4 linked regions of the Homo sapiens genome follow. The protein of the gene in region 4 purifies or fractionates together with the protein of the main gene of each other region. This does not show direct contact. Each region holds a gene or a part of one and is shown on either strand. Other genes may lie near its edges.

The links. The genes of interacting proteins can lie anywhere in the genome.
Region 1: the proteins of ANKRD34A (region 4) and SRGAP2 purify together in Homo sapiens (affinity purification with mass spectrometry, with the first as the bait; one large-scale study listed by BioGRID). This does not show direct contact.
Region 2: the proteins of ANKRD34A (region 4) and CBY1 purify together in Homo sapiens (affinity purification with mass spectrometry, with the first as the bait; one large-scale study listed by BioGRID). This does not show direct contact.
Region 3: the proteins of ANKRD34A (region 4) and ZBTB21 purify together in Homo sapiens (affinity purification with mass spectrometry, with the first as the bait; one large-scale study listed by BioGRID). This does not show direct contact.

What each region holds. Positions count from the first base shown.
Region 1 is NC_000001.11:206,392,041-206,395,540, reverse strand, and holds part of SRGAP2 (SLIT-ROBO Rho GTPase-activating protein 2), read right to left. Parts: intron 2,853-3,500; coding exon 2,637-2,852; intron 1,997-2,636; coding exon 1,868-1,996; intron 1-1,867. UniProt on the Homo sapiens protein: Postsynaptic RAC1 GTPase activating protein (GAP) that plays a key role in neuronal morphogenesis and migration mainly during development of the cerebral cortex. Regulates excitatory and inhibitory synapse maturation and density in cortical pyramidal neurons.
Region 2 is NC_000022.11:38,666,638-38,670,137, forward strand, and holds part of CBY1 (protein chibby homolog 1), read left to right. Parts: intron 1-1,379; 5' UTR 1,380-1,417; coding exon 1,418-1,495; intron 1,496-3,500. UniProt on the Homo sapiens protein: Inhibits the Wnt/Wingless pathway by binding to CTNNB1/beta-catenin and inhibiting beta-catenin-mediated transcriptional activation through competition with TCF/LEF transcription factors.
Region 3 is NC_000021.9:41,986,361-41,989,860, forward strand, and holds the end of ZBTB21 (zinc finger and BTB domain-containing protein 21), read right to left. Parts: 3' UTR 471-3,500; downstream 1-470. UniProt on the Homo sapiens protein: Acts as a transcription repressor.
Region 4 is NC_000001.11:145,958,941-145,961,575, forward strand, and holds the end of ANKRD34A (ankyrin repeat domain-containing protein 34A), read right to left. Parts: coding exon 1,329-2,635; 3' UTR 501-1,328; downstream 1-500.

The DNA of each region.
Region 1 (3,500 bases), about 60 Mb from region 4:
CTTATGCTGAGAACAGGCCTCTCTCCCAACAATGAGGAGCTCTTCCCCTGAGGAGGAGAAAGGATCTTGTTTAGGGCTCTGACCTCCATTGAAGGACAGTGTTCAGATTGTCATCAATAAGCAGAGAGAACAAAGAGGTACCAGAACAGGGAGCAAGGCTCTACTAACCCAGTGAGACAATGACACCTAGGGCATTAAGTGGCTGAAATCTACTGAATCAAAAATCCTCGGCTAAAGGGAGACAGGAATCTGTATTTTAGAGAAGTTCCCCAAGCAACTCTTACGTGAGGCCAGATTTTAATACCAGGGAATTAGTCCAGTTCTTCAGTTAGCTAGAGGAGCTTGGGAGTGGGTGAGAAACAAAGCTGGGTTTCAGAACAATTCAGTGACAAGCCTAGATGACCCAGGTGGTGATATAACAGCAAGACTCGGACCCAAATCCCATATGATGTTGTGAGGTGTGGCAGGTTTGCTTGTGGAGAAACCAAGGCAGGAAAGCAAGAGTGGTCGGGCCAGAGTTTTGCAAAGCCCAACTGCTGCCAACAAGACCCTGAAACAAATGGCAGGCCTCCGAGATGAGATACACTTGAAGCCCCAGAGACTGGGATGCTAAATTGGCTGGCTCCAGATGCCTCACTTTGATGACTGGAAGGAGAGGTGAGAAAGGGTGTAATTACATAGCTTCACTTAGGTGTGGCTCAGGACCTGGGCCAGATTGGAGTCTGTAGGTGAGAGGGCTTGTAAGACCCAACTGTAAGGGGAAGCAGCAGGAAAAACAAGGCCAAGAATAACTCACAGGCAAAAAACAAAAAGCTTATCCCTGCGCTTGCCCCTTGCAAAACACATGTGCCTATTAGCCGCTTTCCTCAATCCCCTTTGCATCACATATTTTAAAAAATGGGCCAGATGTCAGGGGGAGCTGGATACCTTCCTGACAGGACCCTAATTTGCAGCATAACCTTGGACAAGTGAGTCTCGTAGTCCTCTGGACCTTGAGCTTCCTTATCTAGCAACTGGAGACAGCAATGCTTACCCATAATGGTGATGTGAGAGTCAAATGAGTTAACACTGAGAAACCTTAAATGCTATACAAATATAAGGGATGGCATTGTAACTCTTTAGTTAAGTTCTTGCCACTCACTTCTGTGCAAGAGAAGCTGATGTAATAAAGTATTTCCTAGGTCGGGTGCAGGGCCCACACCTGTAATCCTAGCACTTTGGGAAGTCGAGGCAGGTGGATCACCTGAGGTCAGGTCACCTGAGGTGAGGAGTTCCAGATCAGCTTCACTAACATGGTGAAACCCCATCTCTACTAAAAATACAAAAATTAGCTGGGCATGGTGATGCATGCCTGTAGTCCCAGTTACTGGGGAGGCTGAGGTAGGACAATTGCTTGAACCTGGGAGATGGAGGTTGCAGTGAGCCAAGATTGCACCACTGCACTCCAGCCTGGGGGACAGAGCAAGACTCTATCTCAAAAAAAAAAAAAAAAAAAAAAAAAAGGAAGAAAGTATTTCCTGGCAGATAGACGAGTGTAGTGGTTATGAGCCTGGGTTGAGTCATCAGGCCTAGGTGCAAATTTTGCCTCTGTCATTTGTTAACTGACTCTGACTAAGTCATCTAAACTCTCTGTTAATCTGTAAAAATATAGATAATAATGCCTTCCTCCCAGAATTCCAGTTAGGATTGAATAAGTGTGAAGTGTTTCACTTGGTGCTTGGCAAGCACCCTGATGGATCATGGCTGCTATCTTCCTAATTGTTCTCAAAATGCACCAGATTCCTGAACAATAGTATCGGGGAATGTCTGACGAGTATTCTGAAACCAGAAAAGAGGTGCCCTCAGGCCCTTGGCTTTAAGCACTTACATCAATAAGGTCAGATAGGTCATGGATGTAGTACTTGAAGACAGATGCATTGGTTGCCTCCAAAGCCAGCAAGTACTCATTCCGGGCTTTGATGGCCTTCAGCTTATTCTCCGTGTACTTGGCTTGACGCTGAAAAGGAAACAGAAGTTCACTTTTACCTTTTTTTTTTTAAGGGGGGCTTGTTCTCTAAAAGATAAAAGTACAGTGTATTCAAGAACTACAATTGTGTTGCTACTCCCTATGCGCATCTGCCTTAAATTGGGTTCTAATTCTGTTTAATGAGATTCAAGGGCACAATGTAGATCAATTCAGGAAAGGTTAATGAGGCTCCCTACTTAAGATGCGTGCCCCACTTTGATTCTATCTTCAAATATCATTCTTCATTCTTGCAATGCCACTCTGAAGGAGGTACCACTACTCTTGCCCCTGAACACCTGATACCTGAAACCAAATCCTGGGTTTACAGTCACCCCCAACCCCTCCAAAGCAATAGGATATTGAGCTCTATTTGGAAAATGGATTGGGAAAGGTGACTGCTGTTTCTTGGTTTTCTGCTAGAGGCTAGAAACTTGGATCCCACGTGCCCAGTTCTTCCAATACCTAGTATTCCTGCCAGGGCACAGAGCAAGGCCTCATTTTCAGTCATTAGGCACTAAAAGAACCCAGAGCTTCCTCGTCTGCTCTTCCCAGTGACTACTGGGAAATTCCTATCAGCCATGCCTTACCGAATGTTGCTTCCCAGCATCTACAGCTGTGGGAGCCTACATACCTTCTCCTTCATCTTCTCAATCTTCTTCACTGAGCTCCTCCGGACATGTTTCTCCTCAATGCGAACGTTGGCCGTGGAGTCAGGGGAGCGTGGGGTCTGCCGGTCCTCCTGCTTTACCGATTTACCAATTTGCTTCTCCTCCTGCTTCTCCGCCTCCTTTAGTTTGCTCTGAGCACTGATGCTGTCGGCATTGTACATGTGATATGTCTTCATCACCTGCAAGACATCGCCCACCCCCACCCCCAGAGGTCAAGCCAAGGGGGTCATTTCTCTGCTTTACAGACTAACAGACTCAGCTGGAGCTCTCCCCCATGAAGCAATATCCTCACACCCCTAAGGGAAAAATCCAGAAGTGTTTGGTTCAGCAAACACAGATTAAAGACCACTCCAAAGCACAGGAAAGCAATATGTGAACTGAGCCAACATTTCCTCTTATTGAAATAACTTAATGTCTATCCATCATGTATTATTTATTTCTATTCATTATCATTTGTAATCATTTCTCTTTAATATTGGCCAGGTGATTTCTATCACTTAGTCACCTCATAATACTGAGTAGATGGGAAACAACACCACCACTCTCAGGCCCCAAGGGCAAAGCCTTTCTGGGCTGGTCAGGAACCCCGAAGAGGGCAGTGCAGCCTATGGAGTAGCCTATGCTTTCTGTTACCTTTCAGATATAAAATAGGGAAGAGGAAAAGCTTCCAAAAGCTCCTTTTACCGGCCTGGCATTCTGGGGATCTGTCTGTTCTGCTTTATCCAGATCAAACACCCTCTCACAGCAACTGCAATGCCAGTTATCATTTACTGAGCACTTAGTATATTCCTGGCTTTATGCCAAGTACCACACAACACATTTTCTCA
Region 2 (3,500 bases), on a different chromosome or scaffold from region 4:
GTGAGGAGCACTGTTATCAATCTGGAAAGGAAATATAAGCATAGCTTTACTCATTTATTTATTTATTTTTTTAATTTATTTTTGAGACAGAGTCTTGCTCTGTCACCCAGGCTGGAGTGCAGTGGCGCAATCTCGGCTCACTGCAACCTCTGCCTCCTGGGTTCAAGCAATTTTCCTGCCTCAGCCTCCCAACTAGCTGGGATTACAGGCACCCGCCACTATGCCCAGCTAATTTTTTGTATTTTTAGTAGAGACAGGGTTTCACCACGTTGGCCAGGCTGGTCTCAAACTCCTGACCTCTTGATTTGCCCGCCTCGGCCTCCCAAAGTGCTGGGATTACAGATATGAGCCACCGTGCCCAGCCATTTCTTTCTTTATTTTTTTTTTTTTAGAGACAGGGTAATGCTCTTTGACTCAGGCTGGAGTGCAGTGGCATGATCATAGCTCACTGGAGGCTCAGACTCATAGGTTCAAGTGATCCTCCCACCTAAGCCTACTGAATAGCTGAGACTACAGGCACGCACCACCATACCTGGCTAATTTTTGTATTTTTTGTAGAGACAGAGTTTTGCCATGTTGGCCAGGCTGGTCTTAAACTCCTGGGCTCAAGTGATCTGCCTACCTCAGCCTCCTGAGTCACTGAGACTGTAGTTGTGTGCCACCATGCCAGGCTAACTTTTTTTTTTTGAGACATGGTCTCTCATTCTGTAGCCTAGACTGGAGAGCAGCAGTGGACCACAGCTCACTGCAGCCTCAACCTCCCTGGGCTCCAGCGACCCCCCAGCCTCAGCTTCCCAAGTAATTGGGACTACAGGCATGCGCCACTGTGTGCCACCCAAAAAATCTTAGCATACCGCGTAGCACAAAGGGAGCGTTCAGCACATGGGAGCTATTACCAGGCGTCTTAATCCATTTTGTGCTGCTGTTACAGATTACCACAGACTGGGTAATTTATAAAGAAAAGAAGTTTATTTGGCTCACAGTTCTGGAGACTGGGAAGTCCAAGAGCATGGTGCAAGTATCTGGTGAGGGTCATCCTGTGTGAGGCAGAAGGCTCACATGGTGAGCAAGTGCATGAGACAGACAGCATGGCAGCAGAACTCATCCTTTTGCCAGGAGCCCACGCCAGAGAAAACTAACCTACTCCATGACAATGGCATTAATCCATTCATGAGAGCAGAGCTCACATGGCCCAGTCACCCCTTATACTGTTAAACAATGGCAATTCAATTTCAACATGAGTTTTGGTGGGGACATTCAAACCATAGCACCAGGATCGTTAGTAGCCACATGATAAAATGTATGTCTTCAAGATTTGAAGACAATGGCATAAGGTCAGTGATCCAGCTGCTTGTACCCCTGACTTTTTCTGACCCTAGGAGAAGGGAGCACTGGCTTTGCTTTCATCAGGCCAAAGATGCCTTTCTTTGGGAATACGTTCAGTCCGAAGAAGACACCTCCTCGGAAGTCGGCATCTCTCTCCAACCTGCATTCTGTGAGTGTCGGTACTGGGGTCGGCCGGGTGTGCAGCATGAGTTGAGTGCTGAGCGTGTCTCTGAATGGAAAGTGTGGTCCTCCAGAGGCATCAGTGCAGGAGGGCATCCTTTCCGTCCATATCATTGCTATTGCGGAAAACATTTTTGAACTCTTGTTTGGGAATGATCGTCAGAGCTTGTTTATCCAAGAACCTAAGAAGACAATCTCATTATGATATTTGACCCCAAATATCCAAATTTTTTTTTTCTTTTTTGAGATGGAGTCTCACTCCCGTCCCACAGGCTAGGGTGCAGTGGCGCGATCTTGACTCACTGCAACCTCCACCTCCCGGGTTCAAGCGATTCTCCTTCCTCAGCCTCCTGAGTAGCTGGGATTACAACTGCCCGCCACCATGCCCGGCTAATTTTTGTACTTTTAGTAGAGACAGGGTTTCACCATGTTGGCCAGGCTGGTCTCGAACTGCTGATCTCAGGTGATCCACCCGCCTTGGCCTCCCCAAGTGCTAGGATTACAGGTGTGAGCCACTGTGCCCAGCCAGTATCATCCAATTTGACTTCTACTTTATTCTGTGACCTTTTCCTACAGAGCTAGCTATGCAGACTGGCCATGTCTTCACAGAAGGCGAGTGGGGTTGAACAACAAGGCTGTGGGGGCTGAGCATTCACTACAGGTTTCAGGTCTTAAGAGTCTGTTGTCTCCTGTTCCCAGTGAAAATCATGGTGGGGGCAGCCCCACTGTGGCCAGAGCTGGGCATTCTGTGGAGCAGGCCAGGCAGAGGCTTAGGATCTCAGTTTCTGGTGCCCCTAGGCCTGAGGCTCCCTTTCCTCTCTGCCATGTGTGAGAGATGCAGATACACCTGGCGGTCCCTCTAGGACATCCTCTGTCCTAATCCCACACAGCGTAAGAGCAGCAGTGTGCTTACATGACGTCTGTCTCTGACCGTGACTTGAAGTCGGTCCTCCCCTACATTGTTTTCCACATGCTGACAGGTACTTGTAAGCCTTGGTACTTGTAAGGCCTCCACAGCGCTCCATATGGTCACTGGTGGATTTTATTAGTTCCCCGTTATTACAGGATAACCACCCAGATCTTGGGAGCAGCACAAATGACCCTTGGTGGCCTCACTCCAGCTCTCCTTCCTGCCCTTGCCCTCTGCACACCCTGTGCTGCAGCCGCCCAAGCCCCGTGTGAACCTCCTCTGCGCACGCTACTCCTTCTGCCTAGAATGTTTAATTCTAGAATCTAGAATAGATTAATTAAAGAGCTATTGATTGATACCTTTCTATGTGCCAGGCACTCTCCTAAGCACTGGGCATGCAGAAGTGGATGAAGGAGGGGAGAGAAAAACATCAAATCCCTGCTTTCATGGGGCAGATACTTTAACGGAAGGCTACAGAAAATAAGCAAATTTATATCAGATGGTGATATGTGCCAGACAGCAAAACAAAGCATAGGCCTGGGATGGGGTGTGGCTGAGCACTGGGGACTGAGCTTTCATTTTCAACAGGGTGGTCAGGAAGGCCTAACTGAGAAAGGGACATTTGAGCACTTACCTGAAGGTCTCCCTGTGTTGAGCCGCTATTGAGGGCAGAGCTGGTCATACGCATCCCTGGATACCCAGTACCGAGTCCCGAATCGGGGTGGGTGCTCAGTGAGTTGTAGAAATGAATATCTAGGCCAGGCGCAGTGGCTCATGCCTGTAATCCCAGCACTTTAGGAGGCTGAGGTGGGCGCATCACTTGAGGTCAGGAGTTTGAGACCAGCCTGGCCAATGTGGCGAAACTCTGACTCTACTTTAAAAAATACAAAAATTAGGCCGGGCACGGTGGCTCACGTCTATAATCCCAGCACTTTGGGAGGCTGAGGTGGGCGGATCACAAGGTCAGGAGTTCGAGACCAGCCTGGCCAATATGGTGAAACCCTGTCTCTACTAAAAAATACAAAAATTAGCCAGGTGTGGTGGCGTGCGCCTGTAGTCCCAGCTACTCGGGAAGCTGAGGCAG
Region 3 (3,500 bases), on a different chromosome or scaffold from region 4:
ACGTTACAGGGAGAGCTAATAAAATTTTTAAAAATGATATACCCCGGTTTTACAGAAAAACCTCATTAGAATGAAAAAAAAAAGCTATGACATTAAATTCTTTAGATTATCAAATAAAACTGGTTTATCAACTGCTATGCAGAAATATCAATGCAGGGTACTTAAAAATGTTATTTTTCTGCATTTACCCCCCTGCCCCATCAACTTAAAAACTACCAGTTCGAATAGTAAAGGAAATGGCAGATGAGCAAAGATGGTTGCCTATCTGGTTTTAATCATCGTATTTGCGATGCCCAAATAACTAAAGCTTTAATACAACCTTAATTCTATAAGCAACCTGGAACGGGGGAAAATTAAATCTCTCACAGCTATTCACATTACCCAAATAGGAAGATTTTAACTTTACTTTCACAAATGTAAATGCTACACCCGGTTACTATCAAAGTACAGGGCATACCATTGAGACTGACTCGAAGCAAAATACAGTACAAATTTATTGACTCCAATCATTCTTAGTCAACATTTAAGCAAACTGTAGACAATGGAATTGAATACAAATAAGCAATGGATTAACATTAGATAGAAATCCTATTTTACCATGAATTTTCAGTTCGAAAAAGCTTATTCCTAAGTAAAATGGAAAAATGACTTACTCTGCTAAGGCATATGACAAAATACACAGAATTATAAAACCATTCGTTTTTCTTTTAACCATAAGCATATATTCAATGGAAAACTTGAAATAGCCTTGGACTAATGTTCTGAAAACTAGTATTAACTGAGTATAACTGTGTGAAAAATCTGGACAGCATTAACAAATGAAAGAGCACTGAATTCTGTTATTTTAAAGATTTACAGTAAAATACTTTGGTTCCCAAAAGACTGTCTCTAAAAGGAATTTTTAAAAACACCTGACATTGTAACTCATTTTTTCTCCTCCAGAATCTAAACACCAATTTTGTCTTCTCCCCAGTCACATGGGAATGCCACAAGCTGGAGTACCCGCTGAGATACACTGAAAGAGCATATTAAAAATTACAAAAAATTAAACTTCTTAAAGTGCTAAAACCACAAAAAGCCATAAATGAAAACCTATTTTTTAAAACTTAAAGTTTAGTAGTCAGTGTTAAAGAACACTTTTAAAGAGTACGTGTCAGCATTATTTAAATCAATAATGCATTTCACAATTATTGCAGAAACATCACTGAGACATCGTAAATTGTCAAACTGACTTGTAATCCAGTTAGATACAATTTATACAGAAATCTATTTGGAATTATACCTAATTACTTTTTACTAAGAAACTTCAAATAATTTTACTTCCTGAAGTTCCAGATTACAGTTGTATACACACATGCATGCATGTGTGTACAAACCCAATTTGAGACAACAAAGGCCAACTTTAGATCTGTTAATTCTTCCATCTCTCCCTCACCCTGATCAGAGAGTTGGCCTTGTAGGTGCATCCACACCGCACCTCCGTGAACAGACACATTTTATTCCTGTTTCACAGCAGCTACTCTCATTAGCACCAATGGGACTACATATGGATTCAAACGGTCACTCATTAAGTGCTGGGGCACATTTTTACAGGCAAGGCTATAAACGTTCCATTCCAAACCAGAAAACCAAGAACATCACACATCTCCCCACAAATGCAAAGAACATCACTGTTGAATTGTTAGTTGTATATTCTGGTAAAATTATAAATGCATACTAACTAGTTTTAAAGGTGAATATTCTACAAATCTTCAAATATTACTGTTAAAATGCACAATATTTGTTACCTCCATTGCTTACTTTGAGTGATAAAAACATGTTTTATGTTACTCCTTCCTTCTCCCACATAAACGATTCAGTATCAAGTTCTCAGATTAACAAAGAATATATTAAAACATTTTACATTCTTTCCACAACTGCATAAAAAAGCAGGCATCCTGCATACTTACATGGAATAAAGAGCTTTCTACATTTTCAAAATTAATTACAATCCTAAAATATATTTACATGAATATCTTCACTAGCTAATGAGTTGCAACAATTTAAGACCAACTTGTTTTACACCAAGTATTTGCCTACTGGCTGAGATAAACATTCTTAAAAAACTTTACTGAATAAAGTAATTAACATATCTTTCATTATTTTACTTCTTAACATTTAAAATAGTTACATGAGTGGAAGCATATTTTTTTTGACCACCAAAATAAACTCTTTCAGCCTAATGCTTTTAAAGTACAGTATAAAAAGTAATAGAAAAACCAGAACGGCATTATAAATGTTTTTGGTTCAAAATTTTATTTGAAATCTTATATTCCTTGCTTAGACAAAAATGTGAAGACAAAACACCAGTCATTTTTAAAATCTAACAGATATGCAGAACCTATGTTTAGATCAAAAATATTTTTTTTTTTTACTGATTAACAATATTATTTTTAAAAAATCTTCGAAAATGTAGCATAAAGGTTTAGGTCCTGGGATACTGAATTTATAATGCCAAGATACTCTGTATCATGGAATTATCACCGATAGATACTCTAATGGCCATGTAGGTGATGATTACTCAGGGAAACTGTCTTCTTTTGAAGTGACAGCTACCAAGATGGACAGAGTAAGAAATACCACATTATACGCGGAATGAATTCAATGTACAATAATCCATCCTGATGTTTCATGTAAACCCATATGCTTTAGTTTTATCCTTAAAATGCATAGATTTCTTTAAGAAAACAAAGATGGCAAGAATCAATAACTGCAATTTATTTTCCCTTCTCCATCAAATTTAAGAAAGAATAGGAAGTTAACTACTAAAATATTGTGGAATTTTGGAGTTTTTTCAAGTGAAAGAATACAAGGCAAAATTTCATATATAATATCCATAATGTACAAAGTCAATCAGTATTTTATAAAAATGTCTGGTTCAATAAAAAAAATGAGAATATCTTTCCTACCACTGGTATGGAATGTTGGCAATAAGATTGATGGGTACAGAGTTATTTTCTGCTAGAGCACAAATCTAAAATTATTTCTTAATGACAGTAGTTGGCTTTTAAAAAAAATTTGAAAGAATACCTCGTAACACAAACTAGAGTCTAAATTGGTATTACTTTCTTAAAAGGATTTTGTAGTTTCGTTTTTTTAATACATCTAACTCCCACCCCCACAAGTAAAAGTTTTCCCTTTTGAAACACATTGAACTTTGGATATCCTACTGAAAGGCTTTCAATTACAAATTATACATAGTATTCTTTGAAAAGCCCAAAACCCATGGAGCAAAATAAGTAGCTAAAACTAATTTTGGACCACTGATAGTGCTCTAATACCTATTTTTGAAATATTAAGCAATGATGTAGAGAATGGCCTTGCCCATGATTTTAACCATCAGACCCCCAACAAATTCTAACAGAAATTGTCACAAGAGAGAGGCAGGAAAATGTATATGTCGTATATATTGTTCTTGGAAAGCATGTTGAAACTGCAGTGAGGTGTTTCTCCTCTGCTCT
Region 4 (2,635 bases):
GTGGTCACCAGGCCATTTTTGCTTAGGTGAGATTATATTAACTGCTTCCCCCCATCTCTCCTACAGTGGCTCAGAAATCAAAGATGGGGAAATAGAGGCCAGAAGTAGAAGAAAATAGAAGAAACACACTTGGTGAAATGAAAATTAGACCCTGAATAAAAACTGTGAGTAGTCAAGAAATAGGAAGTTTCAAAAGGAGACAGTTAATCTACTGGGATATATCTGCTGATGATGGAGGGAGGAACTCTTTGTAGGAACCTTAAAGAATTCAAGGTTGGACATAGAGGAAACTGGAGGAAATGAAATCCTGTCAAATGCCTTAAAATCTTCAGGACACAGGACACTTGCCTTTTCTCTATAGAAAAGTTGGTTTCTTGGAAAGAAGGTGGCTGGAACAGCTAAGTATCCCTTGGATAATTATAGCTATAAGTTAGTGTTACCCTCCCTCCCCATTCCTCATTCCCCATACCCACACCTCCAGGCAGAAGTGACAAAACAGAGACTTCTGAACACATTTATTTGATATGTCAAGTGGAGAGAGGAGTGATTTAGGGTTTCTCCCCACTTCTACCTGTGGGGGTGTTCATAAGCTCAGACAGACAGAAGAGCAGCTTAGAGCCCATGACCCACCCCCTGGGAAAATGAGACAATCTGTTGTAGTTGTTGGAGGAACAGGGTGGGAATAAAAAGCAGGAAGTTGAGAAGTGAAGTTGAGAGCAGTAAAGACAGCAGCAGAACTGAGGCTGGGGGTTGCTGCAGGAACCCCCAAGAAGAGTGAAAAAGATATCCTGAAAAGTGGTTGGGGTTAGAAGCAGGGTGTGAATAAGGAGCCAGGCCTGGAGAAAGAAGCAAGACCTGCAGAATGGGCTGGGATGTCCACGGAGAGAGTGTGCAAAATCATGATAGGCTGTGTTTCAGGGCATACATGGAAAGCAAGGGATTGCTTCTGCAGGAGGGCAAAGACATCGGAGACTGCCCATAAGTAAGGGTTCCCTACTGCTTCTGAACAAATGCAAGAGAGTTTGGGACCCTAGCCCTGTGTGTTTATTGATATGCTGTGCCTGTAGGTACACAAGTAATCCCATATGCATGTGAAATGACCAGGGCATGAATACATGTGTGTATATACCCAGTAAATAGAGTACTTATTCTTTCTTGCTAATAAGAGTACTGTGCTTATGGACACATGTTTAACCATGTGTGGGTGCACTGTGCACCCATGAGCACATGCAAGAGATCCCTTTGTTCGTGGTGTGTGTGTGAGCTGGTTCTCCCACCTATCCCATTAAGGTCCTAATCCCCACCCTCCTTGGCTCCTCTCACTCCTCTCAGCGCCCTGGCTCCCCAGGCCCACCTAGACTCTGGAAGCCCCCCAGCAGGCGGATCTGCTCAGTCTGCATGGAGTGGCGTCTCACCAATTTGCGCTTGGTCCTGGGAGAGCCTGGCGCCCCGGCATAAGGAGGGGCAGGCAACGAAGGCGCCCGACCTCCGGGTTGTGGGCGAATGTCAGGGATGGGAGGGTGGGGACTGACGTTGAGAGGGGGTAGGAAACCCGGCCGCGTTTGCGAGATGTGGTCCAGGAGCAACGTCCCCGAGCCCCTCCGCTCCAGCAGCCCCGGACTCCGCCTCCTTCCGCTTAGCGGAGATACTGCCCCTGGCAGACTCTCCTGGGACTGGCGCGGAGAGGGAGCCGAGCCGGCTGGAGGGAGGGTCAACGGGGAGGCGCTGTATCGGCGGCGCTCCAGGGACAGGCGGCTGGACTCAGGCGAGTCAGGGCAAAGGTGTCCAGGGGTGTCCAGCTCCACTGGCTCCATGCGGCTCAGTTTCTGCCTCAGCCCTGAAGGGGGACCAGACTCCTGAGCTTCTGGTGCTGTGTTTCGGCGAGAGAGAGGACCCCCGCTAGTCACTTTCTCCGCCCATGGGGGCGGGTCCTCAGGGCCTTCGGTGCTGTGACGTCGGGAAAGACGGGGTCGACCGGTCAGGGTCAGGCCATTGAATTCGGCAGTCAAGCGCTCGATCCCCGGTCTCCCTTCAGTGGGTGGGACTGGTTGAGGAGGGGCCACTAGGCCCCAGGGCTCGGAGTTGAGCCTTTTGAGTGGTTTTGGGGGATGGCGTGGTGGTTTGGGGAGCGGCTCGGAAGGGGATGGGTCATCGGGGGGCTTAGGAAGAGGGAATTCAAATACGTCCCGCTTCTCCTCTTCTTCCTGGGCGCGAGGGGATAACATCCCACGCCCTCCTCCTCCAGCGGTCTGCAGTTGGATTTCCGAAGGCGACGTGCAGAACCCCGGGCTAGGAGAGGCGGGAGCAGGGTCCTCCACCCCTGGGGATGGTGGAGAATTGAGATACTGCCGGGTCTTCTTGGTGCCTGAGGGCGAGGTATCGGTGGTGATGATGATGACCTCCGTACCCTTGGCCTTGCAGGCGTCCAGCAGTGTGGCAAGGGTCTCGCGGTCCCCGCGGTCCAGGGCGTGGACAAGAGCCGAGGCGCCCGCGTGATCTCGGACTGAGGGGTCTGCGCCGTGGGCAAGGAGCAGCGAGGCCACCGCGGCGCCCCCACCCCCGGCGCAAGCGTGCATGAGCGCCGTGCGCCCTAATCGGTCTGCGATATTGGGGTCCGCGCCTTGCTCCAGGAGGT